Homo sapiens: one gene and its partner. The protein of the gene in region 1 purifies or fractionates together with the protein of each later gene. This does not show direct contact. Each region holds a gene or a part of one and is shown on either strand. Other genes may lie near its edges.

The links.
Region 2: the proteins of ARMCX2 (region 1) and MRAP2 purify together in Homo sapiens (co-immunoprecipitation; one large-scale study listed by IntAct). This does not show direct contact.

The regions. Positions count from the first base shown.
Region 1 is NC_000023.11:101,657,751-101,661,663, reverse strand, and holds the start of ARMCX2 (armadillo repeat-containing X-linked protein 2), read left to right. Parts: upstream 1-1,813; 5' UTR 1,814-1,906; intron 1,907-2,129; exon of another isoform or gene 2,130-2,162; 5' UTR 2,163-2,245; exon of another isoform or gene 2,246-2,256; intron 2,257-2,515; 5' UTR 2,516-2,588; intron 2,589-3,050; exon of another isoform or gene 3,051-3,138; 5' UTR 3,139-3,203; intron 3,204-3,521; 5' UTR 3,522-3,591; intron 3,592-3,913. UniProt on the Homo sapiens protein: May regulate the dynamics and distribution of mitochondria in neural cells.
Region 2 is NC_000006.12:84,060,984-84,064,796, forward strand, and holds part of MRAP2 (melanocortin-2 receptor accessory protein 2), read left to right. Parts: intron 1-1,909; coding exon 1,910-2,009; intron 2,010-3,813. UniProt on the Homo sapiens protein: Modulator of melanocortin receptor 4 (MC4R), a receptor involved in energy homeostasis. Plays a central role in the control of energy homeostasis and body weight regulation by increasing ligand-sensitivity of MC4R and MC4R-mediated generation of cAMP.

The DNA of each region.
Region 1 (3,913 bases):
GTTACAGACCCCTTGAGAAACTGATGAGGTCAGTGATCTCTGTTCCTGAAAAAAATGCATTTAACCACACATATAATCCCAAACAAAGCTTTGCAGGTGAATGCAATTTCAGGTGGTCTACAGAGTTGACCGGGTGAGAACACCTACTCTGGGTTCATCAGTGGGGATTGTTCCCTGGGCATACATTTGGTTGAGAGGGCACCAAGGTGGATGTGTACTGGCAGGCAGTAACCTTGCAGGAAGGCTAGACTCTTCCTAGGTCCCCTGGAGCTAAGGAGGCAGAAGTGAGAGGCCCAGGAGGATGCATCTCTTAGGCCAAGTGGTAGTAGCAGACAGTGTTTGGAGCAAGGTTCACTGGTAACCACGAATAAGGACAGACAGCAGTCAGGCCTGGGAACTTCCCCCAACAATCACTTTTTGTGTGATCACAAAAACCTTTTTGTGAAATCACAGGTTTCACAAATCGTCAGCTGCAGGGTCAGGTAAGAACAGCAATCCTTTCTATGCATCAATGGGTTTCCTCTGGGAACTTGGGGGAGGGACGGAAAGAGCCAAAGACATTTAACCAGGTCTGCATCTTGGTCACTTGTCTGGATATATTTTGGGTGTGAGCAACTGAGCCAGGTACCTGAATGCAGGAGATGAGCGGCTCTGGCATATGGGAGGGAGTAGAGAGACAGCATCTCCCTCCTCCTCCTGACAGGGCAGGGAGGATTTGACCACTCTGCACCCACCACACTCAGTTTCCTTGGCCTCACAGCTCTTCCTTTTGCCCAGAGTTGAATCATTAACTGGAACCTAATCCGAAGACAGGTGTTTAAAACTGTCATGGTTACAGCCATCAAATTACAGGAGGTTCACACACAGCAGTCAGCAATGGTTTGGGAATATTAAATAAATGTGTTTCTCTAACAGGACAAGACAGGATCATTTATTTATGCAACTTAAAAGCTGTCCCAGAAGGAGAAAAAAGTAGCGTATTATTTGTCCAAAATAAACAAGATTGAAGAACTGAACATCTCTCTGTGGATCAATTTACAGATCACATGGAAATATGCTTATCTTATTGAGAAATATTCCATTTTAGATGTTCAAATACCTTAGCATATTTTAAAAACTATTTCCTATGTGACCAAAAGAATTCATGTTCTATTCGGTAAAAATTAACCAAAATTAATGGTGCTTTCCAATGGACGCAGGAAACCTTTTTTCTTTACAAAACATGCCCACCCTTTTTTTGTTGCTACTTCCCACATTGAATTCTTGTTTTACTGAATTTTCTTACTATAAAAATAAAGCATGATGATAGTTTTGAAAACAAAACAGAAGTATTTGAGAAGTACAGACCCCACTCCCACTCCTTGTCTCCTTTCTGACACTCTGCCCCTTAACTATACTGGAACAGGGAGTCAACTGCAAGGAAAATCCTGGGGACTAGGGGCTGAGGAACTAGAGGTGGAGAGATGGAAGAGTGTCCAGTAGCCCAGGAAAGGATGAAACAATTCCCCAACAAAAAAGTAAAAATTTTCAGTAGCCCTCCGAGAAGATGCAGCCCCTCCCAGGTAACCAGAGAAAGGCAAATTGTGAAAGCAGGGAGAAGGGGCTACTTTAGGCCTCCAGGACTACAAAGACAAAAAAATGAGTGACAGGACCTGATGTGGTGGGGTGAGATGGGAATGGAAGTAAAGGAGGGGGCTCGTACTCTTGGTGGGAGTGGAAATTGGGGACCCAAGCTTACTGGCGATGCAGCCCTCACGTGACCAGGAGCTGACGTGGGCAAAGGTACTTAAAGCCCTGACCGTCGTTCTCCGTCCTCCTCTGGGTACCAACTCTATTGCGCAGCTCGCTGCCGTGCGTTTAACCCAGGCGAGGAGGAGGAGGAGAAAATTCCCCCAGATTCGGGCAGGTGGGTGTGAGGGTGGGCACAGTCTGGGACCCCTGAATAGGGGTAATCTAGGGATGCGGGAGTCGGAGGCCGCGGGTGCCTCGGTCTCCCCCACTCCTGGCCGGCTTTCCAGACCTGAGGTGCTCAAACGCGGCTCATTTTGGTGGGCGGTGGGGAAAGGGGGAGGGGGAAACGAAAAGACTTTTGATAGACTTTACGAAGAATCCGCTTACTTCCTTTCCAGCCAGTGTTTTTTGGTTTTGTTTATAATATTCAGGCCCGCACCCCACATTCCGTCCTGTTTTGAGAGGAGGAGGGAAGAGAAATAAACGTGGCAGCGCATAGAAGGCCAGCAGGGAGGTTGGGAAAGGGTAACCAGGAGGCGGGGGTGGGGCATGCAATTTGGTAACAATCTGGGCGGCACACTCCCACCCTGACTTTCCCCACCACCGCCCCGGCACCCTCCCATCCCCCAGCCGACCCTCTGTGATTTGGGAGTGCTGGGAAATGGGTGTACCAGCTGCTGTTGGAGAGGTGGCGGGTTTGGCGCTGTCTGGGCTTCACGGGAGGTGGGGGGGAGGGGGCGGACCCTGAGAGAATCTGGTATTAAACCGCCTTGTTAACTCGCAGACTGCTTTCCAGACACCTCCGGCCCACACAGCCGTTCACCCCCCGTCTTTTCAGTCCTGGAAAAGGAATTCGGGTATGCAGGCGGGAGAAATGGCGGTTGTTGGGGGGATTTGTGGGAAGTGGGAGGTAGAGCCCATAGCAGAGAAATCGTGGAAAATCTCGACCCTGAACCCGAAAAGGCAGACGTTGAGGCCCCTCTTCTGCAGGCTAACGCTAGGCCTAGGGGCTGGGGAGCGAAAGATGGGTGATCCTGGGAGGGGAACACTGAATTGTTTGGCAGGAGTCCCCCATACCGCGTCCCATCCAGCTTTTGCTGCACCCTCGCCCCGCTCCCCTCCCGCTTCGTTGCAGGAGAAGGGGTGTGGCGGTGTGTCCTGGAGAAATGGCGGACGGGGGCGGGGCAAAGCGGAAGGAGGGATTGAGTGCCTGGGGAGCCTGCGCAGGAGGAGGATTGAGGTGGGAGGGGTGGGGTGAGAAGAGTTGAAGGAATTGAGAGGTAGAATCATTTGACATTCTGATGTGCAAACACGAAAAGGCAGTTACTGAGACCCTTGTCCTGGATGCTGATCCATCCACCAGGCTTTCATTGTCTAACGTCGACAGTCTATATTTCTGCTCTTCAGTCTGTCCTTAGGATGAAGCTCTAACTGAACTGAAGTAAGGAGAAACAGCCTTGAATCTTTGGAGGGTCAGTGCTGGGGTTGGAATTGTCTGGGGCCCCCTGGTGTGGGTGTGGCAGAGACAAGAGTAGAGTATGGGACCAGAGGCTCCTCCTGCATCTTCTCTCTTTTAATTTCAAAGACACCCTTGCCCCAGGCCCTTTCTTTTTGGTGCAGAGAAAGGGGCGTGGCATCTGCCTTAGTTAATATTTGGGGGAGGAGAGGCTGAAGAGGAAAAGAGGATCCCTGAGGGGGGAAAACCTTTGACCCACAGGGGCCCAAATCAGGAAAAGAACCAGAATTCGTCCACCAATGGCTCAAAAACGCCCTTTCTGATCTGTCCTCAGGTCTGTCTTCCTTTTGGGCTCTGTGCAACTGCAGCTACAGTGGAAAAAAGCAAACTGCTCTTGATCCCAGGTTGGTATGTGCATGAGCACCATGTAGGGGCCTTGGGGGTAGGGGGTGGGGCATCATAGCAGAATCTGAGATCTCTACTGTTTTTCCAGCTCTCTACCAGCTTTACCCATGTCTGTACTGCCTCTCGTCCTTCCATTTAGATGCTGGAAGTTGTAGGCATTGGCAGAGCAGGCTAAGGTTGAAGATGTAGAAAACGTTAAACTAGGTCTGTGAATCAGCAAACACAGGCCTTGACACCTGTGTCTGGGTGCTAGCCCGCCAACGAAGCATTGTGTCCCTAAACTCTTCTCTAAGTAGAACTGGTTAGACACGAAGTGAGCCA
Region 2 (3,813 bases), on another chromosome or scaffold:
CCACTGCGCCTGGCCCTTATGTCTTTTTTTATGCCTCATTTCTACTATATTAAAAGGCAAAGTATACAATTTCTATTTCTTTGGCACTTAAGGTTAGACACATTAGTTTTTCAGAGTGCTGAATACACATTGTTAACCTCTAGGCAATAGTATATGTAGGATGAAAGTATGAATTATGCAGAGTAAATTGTTAATCTGATTTCTTCACTTTGGAAAAAGTGCTACATATACATAATTTAATTAGAATAAAGCTTTGCATTTAAACACATTTAATATTTAAGCTCTAATCACTTATTTTTAGAAAATTGCTAAGCATCCTCATTGTATTTCCACATAGACAAGCTTCTTAGTGTAGGCCAAAAAATGTAGAATGATTCAACTCTGTTGTGTCCTAGATTTGAGGCCTTATTGTGCAAGTACCAAGTTCTGTAGACAATCCAATCTAACCCTGGTCCTAGAGATAAAGAATTGTGATTGTTATCCAAGATAGGACCAAGGAGAGCCCTGTTTAGGGAATTACAGACAAAAATGTTATTGGGTTCAAAGGAGGGAGACAACACATCAATTATGGAAATTAGTTGAGGCTTAGTAGATAGTGTAGCGGATGGACTTGGAAGGATGGATACACTTTCATTAGCTCCACGTTGGGAAAAGTTGTTCCAGCCAGGTAGTGGTAAGAGCCCTGGTAAGGTGTGGCTGTGAGGAAGCTGTGGCTAAGGTAAATACAGGGACACAGTGTCCCCTAGTTTGATTGGAAACACATGGCTTTTAAAGTGGTAAATTGGGAGAAAATGACAATTCTAATGACAGTAGCCAGCACCTGTGGTGTACTGTTTTCTCAGATGTCAGACATTGTATAAAGTGCTTTATGTGTGGAATCTCTTTTACTCTGGAAAAGTGGGTCAGTTCTGTTTTTGTTGGAGAGCTTTTCATGAAAGAGCAATATCATCAGGGCTGTGATTAAAGCAGGTTTGTACAGAAATAAAGCACAGGGAAAGGCAGAAGGCAGAGAGAGCACTCAAGAGGCCATCTGTATGTTCTCTGCAAGAAGTAATGAGAGCCTGAATTATCCATGGTGAACGTAAGTGAGAATGCAAAGTTGCTACCTAATTGAGATGCTAACCAATTGAGTTGTTAAACTAAAATTTGGCCCAAGAAGGCCTCCATTATTTGCATACTTGCATTCTTAGGTATGAGCTGTGACCTAGCTTACTAGGTAAGCAAACTGAAAACCTAGCCAATGCTTCTGTAACAATAGCTCAGTCTCAGCTAATCACAGCAGCTACACTTCAGGCACTCCCAGGCAGACAGCTGTTCAAATGGTGTTCAAATCCAGCTGTTTCCGTACCTTGCTTCTTTTTTCTGTACATCATTTTCCTTTTTCTGTCCCTAAATCTTAACCAACCATGAGGCAGCCCAGAGTCTCTCTGAATCTATTCTGATTCTGGGAGCTTCCCGGTTCAAGAATTTTGTTTTCCTTGCACAGTTAATATCTGTTAAATTTAATTTGTCTAAAGTTTTTCTTTTAACAGTAGGAATCCAAATGCACTTAAAACTTGAGTTGATAGTCTGCTAAAAATTTTATTTTCTAACTCAAAACACATTAGTGGAATCTTGAGGTCCTAGATAACCTATGCTCTGGTCTAGGTTCCTTCCTTGAGATATGGAAAGCATGAGTCAATGAGGCCTAAATCCCTTCATGCTATCTGAGACAGAAACCTGGAGGCGGAGCAGACTCTTCCCTCCTCCTCATCCTTTACATCTTATCAGTCTCCAGCCAACTGCGGATCAGACTGTTGACTTCCTTTCATGTTTCATGTACCAAAGCCTCTCCAAAAAGCTCTGATTCTTGAATGTTCAAGTTTTAAACTACTGTGAAATACTAATCCCAGAATTAACTGTCTTTCAGATTCCATTGTGATTGGATTTTGGGTTGGTCTTGCAGTCTTCGTGATTTTTATGTTTTTTGTGCTGACCTTGCTGACCAAGACAGGAGCCCCACACCAAGAGTAAGTTTGGGCTGTTCCTAAATGTCTCTTAAGCCTCACAGGAGACTGAGGAAATAGAAACTACTACCCAGGGCCGGAGGTGCTTCCCGTGGATGAAGAGAAGGGGGTGGTTATAGATTTGCTGTCTGGACCCAGATGCCCGTGGATGGGATCCAGCTATTCTCCTGGCTTTTTGTTTCTTGCGTCTTGGGCTTATTTTCAAGTGGACTTTTATGAAATTGGGTTTCTTGGTCCTTTCCTACAGTCTTAATGATGATGTGGGCCTGATTTTTACATTGAAATGTTTATTAATTACAATGTATTTTATTCATATTCCCAAAAGGATTTAGATGATTCACCATATTAAAAACAGTGGAAAAGACAATGGCAAAATAGGATGAAAACCAGTTTTAAAAATTATTTCAAGAAGCAGAGTAATAGTTGTTCCTGGATACTCAACTCAATTTAACTATTGACAATGATTAATAAATTTAACAGAGTTTTCTTAAAACTAGGATACAAAGGCAAACACTGTGGTTTACATAATTCTCATAACATGGTAGGACTTGTGATGATGCTGGACTTTGGATTGATGGAGGAAAGTATTACATGAGTGCTTAAAGAACATTGAGAAACATCAAAAAGTATTTGTTCAGTAATGGCTTGTAAAAAATTCAGAAATATATTAAAGGATTTATATATTTTATACCAAATTTTTAATAAAAGGGAAAATAGAGAATATTGAATACCTCATTAGTCAGCACCAGCAGGCAACAGTAATTAAAAGAGTTTTTGGCCGGTATGGTGGCTCACGCCTGTAATCCCAGCACTTTGGGAGGCCAAGGCAGGCAGATCACTTGAGTCCAGGAGTTCAAGACCTGCCTCGCTATGGTGAAACCCCGTCTCTATTAAAAATACAAAAAATTAGCCTGTTGTGGTGGAGGGCACCTATAGTCCTAGCTACCTGGGATGCTGAAGCACAAGAATCACTTGAACCTGGGAGGTGGAGGTTGCAGTGAGCCAAGGTCACACCACCGCACTCCAGCCTGGGCAACAGAGCCAGACTCTGTCTAAAAAAAAGAAAAAGAAAAAAAGTTTTTGATAAAGGGGCTGTGCGGAAGTTATGGACAGGGAAGAGGGCAACTACGCAGGCTCATGCAGGACAGCAGGGCTGGCAACACTGAGGAGCAGCCATCCTAGATCCCAGGAAGCAAGGGGTGGGGCCACAGCTGGAACCCTGGAGTCTGCTGAGAGGAGTTGTGACTTTGGGCTGAGGGACACAGCTAATCCAGTGTGACCTCTCAGGGAAGGAGCCTCAAAGTTAAGACCAAGACCTCAGTCTTCTCCCTCCTTCCCATTTCTCACCATTGCTCCCCACTGGCTGAACACAACCAGCAGCCAGAGGCTGCATCAAAGGCTAGTTTCCCAAGCACAGAGCAGGACAGGGGAGGGTGGGAGAGACCTGGGAGAGTGAATATAAGTTTCACAGGAATCCTGGCATTTTGGTTTTGTTTTGTTTTTTTGTTTGTTTTTTGAGACGGAGTCTTGCTCTGTCACCCAGGCTGGAGTGCAGTGGCGCCATCTTGGCTCACTGCAAGCTCCGCCTCCCGGGTTCACGCCATTCTCCTGCCTCAGCCTCCCCAGTAGCTGGGACTACAGGCACCCACCACCACGCCCAGCTACTTTTTTGTATTTTTAGTAGAGACAGGGTTTCACCATGTTAGCCAGGATGGTCTCGATCTGCTGACTTCGTGATCCGCCCGCCTTGGCCTCCCAAAGTGCTGGGATTACAGGCGTGAGCCACCGCGCCGGGCCGAATCCTGGC